Linked DNA regions of Homo sapiens. The protein of the gene in region 1 purifies or fractionates together with the protein of each later gene. This does not show direct contact. Each region holds a gene or a part of one and is shown on either strand. Other genes may lie near its edges. The genes, in order: SMO and PTCH1.

What was found.
Region 2: the proteins of SMO (region 1) and PTCH1 purify together in Homo sapiens (affinity purification with western blotting; 2 studies listed by BioGRID and IntAct, with this or other methods). This does not show direct contact.

The regions. Positions count from the first base shown.
Region 1 is NC_000007.14:129,205,525-129,212,787, reverse strand, and holds part of SMO (protein smoothened precursor), read right to left. Parts: intron 7,179-7,263; coding exon 7,006-7,178; intron 6,639-7,005; coding exon 6,419-6,638; intron 6,325-6,418; coding exon 6,201-6,324; intron 4,030-6,200; coding exon 3,937-4,029; intron 3,500-3,936; coding exon 3,391-3,499; intron 2,426-3,390; coding exon 2,240-2,425; intron 1,824-2,239; coding exon 1,675-1,823; intron 1,153-1,674; coding exon 1,018-1,152; intron 765-1,017; coding exon 337-764; 3' UTR 1-336. UniProt on the Homo sapiens protein: G protein-coupled receptor which associates with the patched protein (PTCH) to transduce hedgehog protein signaling. Binding of sonic hedgehog (SHH) to its receptor patched prevents inhibition of smoothened (SMO) by patched.
Region 2 is NC_000009.12:95,506,226-95,513,643, forward strand, and holds the start of PTCH1 (protein patched homolog 1), read right to left. Parts: upstream 3,042-7,418; 5' UTR 2,137-3,041; coding exon 1,936-2,136; intron 1,816-1,935; exon of another isoform or gene 1,709-1,815; intron 1,203-1,708; exon of another isoform or gene 1,004-1,202; intron 975-1,003; exon of another isoform or gene 712-974; intron 375-711; coding exon 182-374; intron 1-181.

The DNA.
Region 1 (7,263 bases):
TCACCTCTGCCTCCACCGTTCCTGCCCCACCACAAGCTCTGCATACCCCCTGCCCCGATGGAGCAGATGCTGCCAACCAGGCTGCAGCTGGCAGGGCAGAAACAAGGACCCTGAGCTCCAGGGCCCTGTCCCTGGGGTGAGGCCTCCCCATGGAGATGTTAGGCTCTTTCCCACAGTCCTGCTGCTTTGAGCCAGACATCCAGAACTCTCTTCGGAGGGCAGTCAGCCCACAGGTTCTCTGGAAGACGGGATCCTAGGGAAGCATGCTCGGTGAGGAAGAAGAGCCTTGAAGGTATTGGTTCCTCTCTTTCCTGTCCCAGGTCCTGCTCTGCAGGCTCAGAAGTCCGAGTCTGCATCCATGAGTTCTGTGTCCATCAGGTTGGTGCGGGAGTGAATAGGCCCCAGGCCCTGTCGGCGGCCATGAGCCCATGCCACGGGGGCCGGTGCACTGGGCAGAAATGGATCCTGAGGGGGACTGGGCTCTGGGCAGAATGGGTTGGAGACCAGGGTCCACGCTCCCTGTCGGCAAGAGTCCCCAGCTCCCCAGGCACCTGCAGCCACCAGGCATTTCTGCCGGGGCAGCTGAGGCAGTCGAGGAATGGTACTGGGGGCAGGGGCAGGGGGGTGAAGCTCAGGGGGCGGCGCCAGCGGGCACACCTCCTTCTTCCTCTTCCTCCTCTTCTTCTTCCGGCCCAGGCGCTTCTGCAGCTCTGGGGAGATCTCTGCCTCAACCAGCCACAGGTTGGCTTGTTCCTCTGGGGGCACTGACAGGAGGAGAGACAACACGAGCCTGGGGCCCTGGCTCTGTCCATGCCACCCCCGCTCCCCTGGGAGCACTTAACCTGTTAGTTCTGGGGCCCAGGTCTCTAGACTCTTAGAGCCTCAGCCCCACTCTTCAGATCCTCTGGGGCCTTTCCTTCCTCTTCCTCCTCCTCCGACAGCCCCTGTACTCCAGTCCCAGAAGCCCCCAGCCTCTGTGCTCCCCCCACCTTCCTCCAGAAGCTTGAACTCTCATACCTGGAGTTGCCACAGGGGTGACAGAAATATCCTGGGGCAGTATGGCTCCTCTCCGAGCCACCATCTTGGTGACATGCTGGGCCCAGGCAGAGGAGACATCAGCTGAGGGCTCATTGAGGTCAAAGGCCAAGCCCGCTGTGGGAATGGAAGGAAGGAAAGGAGAAGGAATAGTGACTTCCCGGTCCCTGGCAGTGCCTCCCATAGTCAGTGCCATTCATCTTCCCACAGCCAGTCCCTCCTGCTCACCAGAGAAAGCTCACCCTGTAACCACGGTGATCTCTACCCCTTCAGAATCTGAAGAGAAGGGCCTCACGTCCCCAAAGGGCCTAACTGGAGGCCAGAAATCCAGTTCTTGGAACCCTGACTTACTCTTGCCCAGGGAGAGCAACTGGAGAATTTATGAGAAGGGAGAGGGAGGGGAGTCTTCTTGGAACCCAAGCACCGGCAAGCAGACCCAGGGGCAGAAACAGAGAGGGGAGAGCCCCCCAGAGGGTAGGAGGGGCCGGGGGAAGAATGGGTGTGTGAGCGATGGAGGGAGCGCCTTGCTCCTCACAGTCGGTCTTCCAAATAATCTGTGTGCCCCCAGCAGGCTGGGAGAGACTAGCACATGGGCAGCGCGGGGCCAGGCGGCTCCGGTAGAGGAGGGGTGAGGCTCACCCACGGGCCCGTCGTGGGACACAGTGTGCATGCTGAAGGACAGCTCCTGGCCTGGGTTCTGCAGGAGCTCGTGCCGCTTAGAGAAGGCCTTGGCAATCATCTTGCTCTTCTTGATCCGCTTTGGCTCATCGTCACTCTGCCCAGTCAACCTGAGAGCAGAAGGGATAGGGAAGGAGCGTGAAGAAGCTGCCACTTCCCATCAAATCTTGGGAAGGGCCAGCGATGCCATTCTTTCCAGAGAAGGAGGCTCCCAAGGGCCTCAAGTCCTTCAAGGACTCAGGAGTAGAGGCCTTCTCTGCAAAGAAGTGGGGCCAGAATGCAGAGCTCCTGTGTGCCCAGCCCTCCAATCACTCCGCTCTTAAAAGGTGATGGCAGCTGGCTCTGCCCTTGGCCCAGGCCCAGGCCCAGGCATCAGGCCACCCAAGGACAGAAGGTGCCACCAGGGGGCAGCGGTGAACCACTGACCAAGGCTGTGCTAGAGGCAGGACCCGACAAAACCTAAAGATGGGGTCCCAAGGCTGAGGGTGAGGCGGGCAGGGCAGGAGGGGCTGGCTGCCATGCCCACCTGCACCAGGTACGCCTCCAGATGAGCAGCGTGGCCTTGGTCCAGACCCAGGTGCTCATGGCGATGCCAGTTCCAAACATGGCAAACAGGTTGATCTTCTCCACCAGAAGGCTCGGGCGATTCTTGATCTCACAGTCAGGGATGGGCTGCTTGGTGGGCAGCCCGATGGTCACATTGGCCTGACATCTACAGTGAGGGAACGTAGACAGGTGAGGCTTTCCTTTCTTTTCCTCTCTCTTTTTTTGAGATAGGATCTTGCTCTGTCACCCAGGCTAGAGTGCGGTGGCGTGATCACAACCCACTGCAGCTTCCAACTCCTGGGCTCAGGCAATCTCCTGCTTCAGCCTCCCAAGTAGCTGGGACTACAGGTGGGGTTTTCTGAGTCTACTGGGTAGACTCAGACAATCAATCCAAAAACTTTAGAAAGGGCTAAGCTCCACAGCACTGATCTCAACCCTGGGTGCTCATTAGAATCAACTGGGGAGCTTTTAATAGCTACTGATGCCTGGGACCCACCCTAGACAATTAAATTGAATCTCTGGGGCAGAGACTCAGGCATCACTGTGGTTTAAAGCATCCCAGACTGGAAGCCGGAACCTTTACGGAAGAGCCTGAAGCAGTCAGGGCTTGGACTAGCATCCATTTTAGCGACTGTCCTTGTAACAGTGGGTACTGCGCTTCTCTCAGCAGTAGCAATGTCTTACTCTCTCCAATCCATCCTCATTATGACACAAAAAAGCACAGGCAAAAACTAGCCAACATTAGCAGGTCATTAACCTATCACAGAGAGGTAACTAGTCCTGTGCCAGGATCTAAAGCAGGCTCTGCAGGAGAGCACACAGAATTAGAGGGCAACTTAGTGTCAGTCAGAGAAGACGAAGCTGAACTGGCTGCTTAACAGTCACACATGCACCAGCTGGGCAACCAAGGGGGTGGAGAGGGAAGGGCAGAGGTGAGAAGGGATGCGAAGGTTGTTTGCCACGTTTGAGAAACTACGGAGACTGATGCCTTATGCACCCAGACACCATCCATTGAATCTGCTGTCTGCAGCAGGGACCTGGCAAATCCCTGCTGCCCGGTGGGTGGAGGTGGGTGTCTTTATGGCCTTGGCTCCAGCTCCCAGCACTGCCGCCTCCATGCCCCTCACTCACAGCACATAGTCCCGGAAGCTGCGCTCCCACTCAGCCTGGTTGAAGAAGTCGTAGAAGTGGCAGCTGAAGGTAATGAGCACAAAGCCAAAGGCCAGGAAGCCAAAAATGCCTGTGGAGGACAGGGGCAGGACAGGACGTTACCAAGCCCAGTCCCGCAGCAGCAGTGGGGAGGAGAGAGTCTGCCCCACTGGGCCTCAAAGTTCACCCAGCTGGGGCTGGGGTGAACTCATGCTGGGCTCAGTCCAAGAACTGCTTTCTCTAAAATAAAATAAGAAGGGCACTTGAAGCAACTGTGGGAGGGACCACGTGGGACGTAGTGGGCAGGAGGAACCAGTCCCGGCATGAACTTGACTGAATTCTTCCCCCCGAGTAGACCCCCTTCTTTTGAGCTGCCACTACCACTACCACCTACACACACCCCTTGTCCTTGTCCCTATGGCTAACTTGTCCCACTGACTTACTGCATCCTGCCGGTCGCATAGCCCCAGGAGGGTGCAGTGTTGGGCTGGCCAGGACCTCAGACCGAAGTCCCCCGGGGCCACTCACCCAGGCGCAGCATGGTCTCGTTGATCTTGCTGGCAGCCTTCTCACTCAGCAGCCCGGGGTGGTTGCTCTTGATGGAGAACAGAGTCATGACTCCTGAACAGAAGGGGGACCTCAGACATTAGCAGGGGTGAGGCTGCCCTGCTGGGAAGGATGGGTGAGTGGGAGGAGGGTCCTAAGGCTCTGGAGTCCCAAGTCTGATTACCCCTGTGCTAAATGAAAACCTGGGGAGCTAGAGACACTGGAGAAATGGTGAGAAGACCAGGGCAGAGCCTAGACAGACACTTGAGAAGAGGGAGCCTCGGTCGTGGCCCAGCTGCCCCTGAAGAAGGGGGCAGATCAAAGCTGTTCTGATGGGAAAGACATAAAACAGACTCAAGAACAGCGCTATCCATATAATTTTTTTTTTGAGATGGAACCCTGTCGCCCAGGCTGGAGTGCAATGGCGTGATCTCGGCTCATTGTAAACTCCGCCTCCCAGGTTCAAGCAATTCTCCTGCCTCAGCCTCCCAAGCAGCTGGGATCACAGGCACCTACCATCACGCCGGCTAATTTTTGTATTTTTGTAAAGATGGGGTTTCACCATGTTGGCCAGGATGGTCTTGAACTCCTGAACTCAGGTGATCTGCCCACCTCGGCCTCCCAAAGTGCTGGGATTACAGGTGTGAGCCACCATGCCGGCCTTCCCATAGAAATATGTGAGCCACATACATATGGCAAATTTCTAGTGGCCACTTAAAAAAAGTTAAAAGAAACAAGCAAAACTAATATCAATATATTTTACAAACCTAATATATTCAAAATAAAATCATTTCAACATGTAATCCATGTAACAAATTATTAATGAGATATTTTACATTTTTTTCCCACTAAGTTTTTTTTTTAATACAGTGTGTATTTCACATTTTACAACACATCTCAATTTGGACTTGTTTCTTTTTGTTGTTGTCTTGTTTTCTTTGGAGACAGGGTCTCACTCTGTCACTCAGGCTGGAGTGCAGTGGCAAGATCATGGCTCACTGCAGCCTCAACCTCCTGGGCTCAAGCAAGCCTCCCACCTCAGCCTCTCACATAGCTAGGACCACAGGCATGTGCCACCCTGCCCAGGCAACTTTTGTATTTTTTGTAGAGATGGGGTTTCACTATGTTGTTCAGGCTGGTCTCGAACTCTGAGCTCAAGTGATCCGTCCGTCTCAGCCTCCCAAAGTACTGGGATTACAGGAGTGAGCCGCCGCACCCAGGCTGGACTAGTTCAACACATGTGGCTAGTGATTACCATACTAGGACAGCATGATAACGAAGCACAAATCAGAGGGCCAGACACTATGCCAAAAAGAGGGGAAAGAGGTGACTGAACAGAAGGCTGGCAGTTCAGGGTGAGGAAACTGAGGTTTACAAAGAAAACCCAACAACAATGAGCTAAATAGATGCTGAGGCTTACTATGGGATGGCAGCATGAGACAGGAAAGTTAGGGACCACTAATTCCACGCATGCTGTGAGAGCTGTGTGTGCCGGGGACAGAAAGAAGATGAAAACCAAGCTCCAGAAGATTGACAGTACATATCGAATTAATGTGCACACAGATAACCAAACGACCTAGGTTGGTCCAAGTGGGCAGAGTAGGTTACTCAGGGTGTTCATCACACAAGTGCACCGGCCAGGAGCTGACTGGGGCTGGATCCTGACCCAACTCCACCTAACAAGCTGTGAGGCTGGGCACTGTGGCTCATGCCTGTAATCTCCGCACTTTGGGAGGCTGAGGTGGTGGATCACTTTAGGTCAGGAGTTCAAGACCAGCCTGGCTAACATGGTGAAACCCCGTCTCTACTAAAAATACAAAAATTAGCCAGACGTGGTGGTGCATGCCTGTAATTTTAGCTATGGGGGAGGGTGAGGCAGGAGAATCACTTGAACCCAGGAGGCGAAGGTTGCAGTGAGCCAAGATTGTGCCACTGCACTCCAGCCTGGGCAACAGAGCTAGACTCTGTCTCAAAAACAAAAACAAACAAAAAAAACAAGCTGTGAGCCCTGGGCCAAGGCCCTGGAGAGAGGGATGGATTTTTCTGGCCAGTACAAAGGTGCTGTCCCGCAGCAAGTGCTCACGGTGTTTCGTCTGCCTAGAGGGTCACCTTCTACTGTGTGAAGGCCCTATAGGAGCTAGCTGGGGTTTCAGCATGGGGGCAGCCGTGCTGGCAGCTCCCAGTACTGGCAGCAAGTGCCCAGTATATTTTGTTGCCCAACTGGTCCTGGCCTGGTCTTCACTCACCTCGGATGAGGAAGTAGCCTCCCACGATGAGCACCAGGCCGATTGGGGCCAGCACGAAGCCCGCACGGTATCGGTAGTTCTTGTAGCCCACAAAACAAATCCCACTCACAGAGTCCCCATCCACCTGCAGCAGGAAGGGGTGGGACAGAAGGTGGGTTACTGGCCCCCTCCCTCAAACTCACCCCATCCAGGTCTCCCGTTCCTACCAGTCACTATACCTGCGCCACAGCAAGGATTGCCACAGTGAGGACAAAGGGGAGTGACCAGGTGAGCAGGTGGAAGTAGGAGGTCTTGCCCGAGAGAGGCTGGTAGGTGGTGCCCAGGGCTTTGAAGGAAGTGTGCCAGGCATAGGTGAGGACCACAAACCAAACCACACCAGCCATCAGGGCGTAGTACACGATGACAAAGATGATGACGCAGGACAGAGTCTCATTGGAGCTGTGCAGAGAGGTGAGGTGTCACTTGAGGCGGTCACTCTGTACTCCCTCTACCTGGTCTCCCCACCCTGTGCCCAGACCCTCAGCTGCTGAGGTCTGGAGGTTCCCAGAAGTCAGGGCTTGGAGACAGGACCCAGGTCAGATCTGAGGAGGCTCTAGGAGCCGCCCCTTTGAGCAGATACAAACCATGAAGGTCCTGATTCTGAAACTAAGATCCTAACACTGGAGATCTTGCATGCAGTATGCAGTAGGGCAGAGCCAGATCCTGCCCTGGATCTCGGTTTTACACGCACCTGCTCCCTTTGGGGTAAACGCACACTTCAGCCTTCCTCCCTGTACCTTCACCTCTGGGTCCCCAAGACACCTACGTGGGCTCCCCAAGCCTCATGGTGCCATCTGCACGGCAGACGATCTCTCGGCGGGCACCATCCATGAACTGGGCCAGCCAGCCAATGCTGCCCACAAAGAAGCACGCATTGACGTAGAAGAGAATAACAGCAGGGTAGCGATTCGAGTTCCGCCAGTCAGCCACGAATGTGGCCTAGAAGAGAGAAGTGGGCCATTCTGTGAGGTTAGGGTTATTCTGCTGACACAGACACCCTTAACTGAGCCCCAGACCCTTCTGA
Region 2 (7,418 bases), on another chromosome or scaffold:
GCGGCCTTTGTCGGGCGGGCCTGGCTCCCGGCCAGGCGCCCAAACAATAAACAATCCCCCGGGTGCGGGCAGGGGGTTTCGCCGGCCGCAGCCAGGCTCTAGGTGTGCGCTGGCGAATATCTCTATCAACCGCGAGGAGGGACCGGGCCGGGGGCGCGGGCGCCGCGGCGGGCGCTCTTACCTTCCACCCACAGCTCCTCCACGTTGGTCTCGAGGTTCGCTGCTTTTAATCCCACCGCGAAGGCCCCAAATATGAGGAGGCCCACAACCAAGAACTTGCCGCAGTTTTTTTGAATGTAACAACCCAGTTTAAATAAGAGTCTCTGAAACTTCGCTCTCAGCCACAGCGGCGCTTTCCGGCCAGTAGCCTTCCCCTGGGGACGAAGCAGAAGGGAGGAGTGAGCGCCGGGGAGTCGCGGCCCGCGCGCCCACGCCCGCTTGCGCGCACCCGCCCGGTGAGCCCCCAACAGCCGTGGGGGCGCGGGTGGCCGCGGCACACGGACTCGCCCTCGAGACTGCAGCCCCGGCGGATCTGAGCGTCATGGGGGGCTCGGTCATAAAGCCGGGCCGCAGCGTGGGAGCTGCACCTCGGGGACATCAGGGCGCCCCCACCCGCGGGATCCCTGAGCGACTTGGGGCACTGGGGCTGCAATACAGAAGAGGAAGCCGAGGTAGAGAGGAGAGAAACCACTCGACACAGACAATATTCACCCCAGAGCTGAGAAGGGAGGGGCTGCGTAATCCCAGCGATGGAGCCCAAGGTTCAGGAGCCAGCAAACCAGTCCTGCTCTGTCCATCACCCTCGGGGACGGGCGCTAGGGGCGAGCGCTCTTTGGAACAACATATTGCGGGTTCCCCCAACTGGACCCCCGCCGAGAATGGTAGTAAGTGGGGATCCACGTGGTGAGCGCGGCCGCCGGAGTTCACTCCCGACGCATTTCCATAGCGTGGGGAGAGGCTGTGTGAGCTGAATTAGGAAGTGGGGCAGCCAGCTGCAACTTACGACAATATTTGTGATCGGAAGAGGGCAGCCACATGGATCTTTCCCTCCTCTCCCTTCCTTTCTGGTTAAACGTAAAAAACAGCCGAGTGCAAAGGGAAGGGCTCAGGCCGGCGCAGGCTGCTCCCCGGCGCGGCATTTCCCCGGCGCTGGCCGCGGCCCCGGCGGGCCCCCGTCTGGGTGCTCGCCTTCCCTGGATTCCACACATTTCAGCGAGCCTCGTAAACACAATGAACCCGGCAGCTCCGCAGACTCGCACCGCGAATTTAAGGTGGCAATTTGTTTACAACTTTTCCTCCCCCGACCAGGCCCTAAGGAGAGGCGGCTCAAAACCTGGAAAACGGGGGGGATATCTTTTTCCGAGAATAATTTTTTAAGGGAGCAGAGATTTCATGCTCAACAAAACCAAAACTGGCTGCCAAAAAAGGAAACCACCTTTATTTCGGCTCCCTCCCCCCTTCCTCTCTCCGCCTCTCTCCACTCCGCCTCCCCCTCCAAGATGTTAAGAAATGTGGCAGCCGTACAGGAGTTTAGGCTGCAAATAGGGGCAGGGGCGCAGGAGGAAGAAGTTCAGGGCAGGGGGCACGGGGCAGGACAGTGCCGCGGCCGCCCTTGAGGTGGTCCGCCGTGGACGGCTTTCCAGTGCTCCGGAAAAGGCACACCAGGGAGGGCGTGTGTATACACACACACACACGCACACACACACACCTCCACCCCCTGCGGACCTCAGACAGCCCTTTCCTCCCAGGACCAGAGGGAGGGTTTGAATTTTTCAATCCCCATTTGTCTGCTGCTTTTCCTGGAGAGGTGTGAGTGAGTGTGTGTGTGTGTGTGAGAGAGAGAGGAAGAGAGTGTGTGTGTTTGTGTGTGGCGGGGGCGATCCCAAAGAGTTAGAGGAGGGAAGAGAAAGTGGGAGGAGAGAGTCTGAAATGCACCTTGGAAATCTGCTCCAGAGCGAAGGCGGCGTCGCAGTAGCTGGGCCGGTGCAGATAGTCCCGGTCCGGCGCGGCAGCACGGCGCAGCCCCCCCGTCCGTCTGCGCCTCCCGCCTCCAGCCGGCCGTCCCGGGGCACCGATACAGCCGCTGCCGCCGCCGCCGCGGTCCTGGGGCTCGGCGGCGTTACCAGCCGAGGCCATGTTGCCGCCGCCGCCGCCGCCGCCGCGGGGACGGAGGCTTCCCGGGCGGCCCGGCGCGCTGCTGCCGCTGCTGCGGGCTCCTGGCGCGCCTGGGCGCTCGGCTTGCGAGGACGCTGCTGGCCGCAGGCTGCTCGGGCTCGGGCTCCGGTTGACAGACCAGCCGCTGCTGCTGCTCACACGGCGGGCGCTGCTGCCGCTGCGGCCGCGGCCGCTGCCGGGGAGTCAGACCCTGCGCCTTCCATTGCCACATTGCGCGGGGGTCCCGAGGTCTCTGCGGCCGCCGCTGCCCACATCCAGTTCGCGGAAGAGCGAGAGCCGGCGCGCCGAGCGAGCCTGTCCTTCGGGCGCTTCCGCGGCACTCCTTGCGGTCCCCAACTCCCCCTACCCGCCCCCCGCCCCGCGCCGCGACCCCTTCACTGCAGAAAGAGCCAGCGAATCCCCGCTGCTCCCGCCGGCCGCGCTGGCTCTCTCGGCGCCTCCCGGGTCGCCCGAGCGGCCGCGGAGGGCAAGCGCAGAGCCGCCGCCGCCGCGGGGTCCGAGGGTGCCCGGCGGGTCTCAGCGCTGCCGGGCCCGGGCAGCCGCAGCTGCCGCTGCTCCCGCGGTGGCTGCTGCTGGCGGTGGCGGCTCCAGGAGCTGCTGCTCGGGCTGCTCGGGCTCTGGCTGCTGGGTTCGCGGTGGCTGCTCGGTCCCGGACTCTGCTTTCTTGTGCTCCTCGGCAACCCGCTGGACCATTCTGTCCCCGTGCAGCGCGCCTCTCTCGCTCCCGGGACCTGGGGACTCCGCTCTGTGTGTGTGCAGCGGGCAGCGGCCGCAGCAGCTCCTTGATTCAATAGATGAGATGGAAGAAGAAAAAAAAGAACTCTCTCCATTTGGAGAAAGAAGAGGAGGAGGGGAGGGGAGGGGGTGGAGGGGGAGAGAGCGAGCGAAAGAGAAAAAGGCTGGAGCTCCCGCCCCCGGGGCTGTCAGATGGCTTGGGTTTCTGCGACGCGATTGGCTCGCGGAGGGCAGAAATTACTCAGCAAACATGACTATTATTAGCTGCTTAGCAACAGCTCACCAAAGTAGAGAGACCACCCAGGTAGGCAACCCAGTGTGTGCATCCTCGGCTTCGGGGCAGCCTCTGAGAGCGCCAACCTTCTCGCATGCAATACTTCCATTAAGGAATGCTCCCCCTCCTTTCTCTCTTATTCCTTTTCTTTTCAACAGTGTCTTCTTTTTGTGGGATGCCTTTGCGCGCACACACGCGCGCGCACGCACACACACGAACATTTGCCTCGCGGTAGACACGGGGGGAAATGTAATATTTTTTTAAGCGCTTAAACAATTTCTGAAATTCCTCAAAGAAAAGCCTTTCAGAGGCACCTTGGCCTCAAGCTGCAGCAAATACTGGGAGGTCCGGCTCGCATTCCCAGGCCTGCACCAATAATGACAGCGTGCTGGATAGTGCGCCAGTGTGTGCCAGATTTTTTTTTCCTCTTCTCTTTTCTTTTATAACTAAAGGGAAGACTTAGGCTCTTGCAGGGAACAACGCCTCGCATTAAGATAAACAGAATGGAAAGTTAAAGAGGAAAGCAAGGACGTTGGGAAAAGCCATCTTTCTTAAAATCCGTCTGCCCCCCAGCCGCTTTCTCCCCCCAACTTAAAAAAAAAAAAAACACAGTCTTGGTTTGAAGGAGTCAGTGTTCTATAAACGTGGAATCCAGACACCGAAGCAGTCTTGTAGAGGCAGAGGCGTTTTTATTTGAATCTCGAATGTGACATAAGTAAAAGAGAAACAACAGAATCTTTTTTTACAACTTAGAGAAACGGAATTGTTTCCTTGAGAGAGTAAAGTTTTCCTGATTATTTTGGGTTCATTTGTACACCCCTTTTTATTAACCAGATGTTTATATAGTCAGTATTTTTTTTTACAAAACTCGGTATGCATGTTATATTTAATAATAGTATGACGTAGGAGATTATAAATGCCCCGATGCTGGATTCATTGAAAACAAACTGTGCGCGGATCGCGAGGATTCGTCCCGACACCGCGTCCAGTGTCACCAAGGCATCCCGGGGATTCGCTTCCCGCGGAGGGGGAAAACACGCGACCCTTTGAGGTGGATTCTGGAGCCAGACACGTCTACACAACTAGGCTTTTTATTTAAAAAAATTTTTGTTTTCGGAAAGTGGAATGTGTTTTTCTTACGTTTCCAAGTTATTACGTTCCTCCCTGCGGTAGGAACCCGACCCGCAAACCCTTGATTTGCTTCACTTTATTTTTTTTTTTAAACGGGGTTGAACTGCAGAGGGACTGGCAGTAGCGAGAAGTCTAGTGAAGTCGTGAAATGGGGCGGTGTGGCTTTAAGATGCGCACGGTGTATGTTCATTGAAAAAAAAAGAAGAAAGAAAGGAAAGGAAAGAAAGAAACCCAGATGGAGGGAAAGGGGGAGGAGCAGGGAGAAGGCGGAGCTCCGGTGGCCACGTGACCCCGCGCCAGGAGGCCCGGTGCGCGCGCGCGCCCGGCTCCCGGACTCCCCGCGCCCGCGCGGCCGGGGCAGAGTAGGTAGGGAGGCGGATGCGCCGGGCCGGCTCCGGGCCTCCAGCGCGGTCTCCCGAGAGCCCAGGCGAGGCGCGCGCCCAGCCGGCGCGGACGGACGTGCCGGACGCGCCGTAGTACATTCCTGAAGGCGGACCGGCCCCCTTACGCTGCCCAATGCCCGCGCCGCCTCCCCGCGACCGGCCAATGGTCGCGCTCACGAGTCCCTGCCCATTCAGCGGCCCCGCGCTGGCTGCCCGGGCGCGCTGGGGGCTGCGGCGGGGCGCGCCGGCCACCGGGGCGGTCCACGCGGCTCCCGCAGGGGGCCCGTCCGCCGGCTCTCCCCGCCCCCTTCCTTCCTCCCCGGCGGTTTCCCCTCCCCGCTTCCTTCCTTCGGCCTGCGCCTTCTCCTTCCTCCCTCGCCCCGCTCCCTCCCTCAATCTCCCCTCCCCCACCAGCCTGGCCACCTTCCCTCCAGCCTCTCCTCCTCCCCGGCTTCAGGGGGAGGCCCTTCCCCCGACCCCCTAACCCGCAAACCGTATGCGGTGCCGGGGTCAGGGCGGGATGTCCCGAGGAAGAGAGGGAGACGGGGTGGAGGTGTTTGGGGGCGTTCGCGGGATCCGGAGGGGGACCTGAGCACCGGGCCAGCGCGGAAATTCAAAACTCAGACCGCTTAAGGAGCACGTGATTTTGTGAGTGCCTCAGGGAAGGGCTGCGGAAACTCGGAAAGCAGGCGGGCAGCATGCGAGGAAAATGACACTGAGTTGATAAAGAGCTCAGACGGCTCCACACATTGCCAGTTTCATCTTTGAGTACGATCCTGATGTTTATTAGGTTTGATAAATAGCACAAAACAGGAAAAGAGGTTTACTATTCTAGCTTTTCTTACTGAATGGTTATGCCGACACTTCAAGTCGAACCATTGTGTGTTTGCTTCTGGAAATTGCTTTTTAAAAACTGGGGGAGGGGGGTAGTACCCCTAGTTTTGCATGTTAGCCTTTTTATATTTCAAGCTTGCTGGAGGGCAAGGAACCATATAGCCAAAGACACGTTGCTATGTTTGTCTTTTCAAACTTCTCCACCACGTTTTGGCCCAAAACTATTAGTGTTTCGTCTCAATCTTTTACTAGAGGGATTTCAGTATAGCTTGTTTGGAAGAAGGAATTCTGGAAGGAAATGGTAAGCTGTGTGCCCGTAATGGATCCGCCTCACTCTCCGCACGCGGCTGCATGTCCTCTGGTTCCGGCGGCTGCCACATGCACGTCATTTCAGTGGCAAAGCCTCTTCCACTCAGGCCCATATCCCTTAGTTTGACTTAATTCCTAAACGTTTTGAACATTGATCCCCGGAGCTTTCAGTGCCCTGAGCCCCCTCGCCCGCTGTTTGATGGGTTAACTTTTCAGCATCTCAGACAATGGTCCCGGCCTGTAAATTCTACCCGTGGGTTCCAGGACGCACTCCGGAGCCTCGGCTCTAACGAGCGCTATCTTAATCTCCCCACCCCCCACCCGCCGCTTCCCCTGTGGTCTGCTTTTTTCATACTTAGAGATGAATTACTTTGAGGATCTAATTGGCCTTGTTTCTGTAACGTTTTAAGAAAGGGAAGAGGAGCCAGTGTAAAAGCCTGCTCGACTTGGGTGGTCAGGGCTGAGGCTGCCCCCAATTTGCCTCATTGCTGATGCATGCGAGTGCGACATTCCCAGCGATAATGTTGTTCCTAATCAATCTGCCCTTATTTACATTTGTAAGCATTGTCGGCTTTAATATGCATGCCCTGTGCAGGGGACTGCTGTGCCACACCGGGTTTGTTAACTTCAACTAACCACAAGGATTCCACAGATCTGAGATGCAGACTGGGGCAGCCAGACCTGCTAAGGTGTCCTCCGGGAAGACAGTCCCTTTAAATGGCCCTTCTGCCTCTGGCACCCCTTGTGACAGTTACCAAATAAAAATAAGTGAGAACTTGGGGCCTTATCAGCCAGCAGGAGTTGCCAGCCTTTATGAAGCAACAGCTGAGTGTTCCATTTCCCCTTTCCAAGTAAAGTTCATCTCAATGCATAAATTGTCATTTTGGTCTCCCAGTCATGATCCAAGACTTCTCATTGGAGTGTGTAGTTTTCAAAGCAGATGCCTTAAGCTCTCCGGATTCCCTCACATCTCCTCCCTTCTCTGTTCCAATACTACAAATATCCATGGCCACACCACACACATTTCAAAAATGACATCAGATTATCCAAATGATGACAATGAAATAAAACATCTGCCCTTTGTGTTGGGATGTTCCAATGGTAAGCAATTGTGGAAGCCAGACTTGGTGGAGTTATGAAAAACCACAGTGAGATTTAACTTTTCACTGGTTTCTCAGATCAAACCAAATGAGTCTTTAAAATCCAATGTAATTTGGCAAGTTTTGCAGAGTATAAATGAATAAAGGGGTTAATGTATTCCAGTAATTTGACCCTGGGGCCATTTATAATTTTGTCTACTGAGTTTAATACTCTTCCAGAAATACAAGGAATTGCAAACATGATTTTAAGTCCTACAGTATTTTTGTTGAGAGGGTCGGATGGAGAGAGGAATTGGGGATTTGATGCAATATTCTTTTACTGCATGGGGAGCCCAGGATACAGGATGTGAGTGATGGTCAAGGCAGGGCTTCAGCAGTTCCAAGCAGGTACCTTGAATATGAGTTGAGTCGACTCAACTCAAGCCAATGTGCCACCATCCACCACATTTTCTTGGCTCCCTAAGAATGCCTTACTAT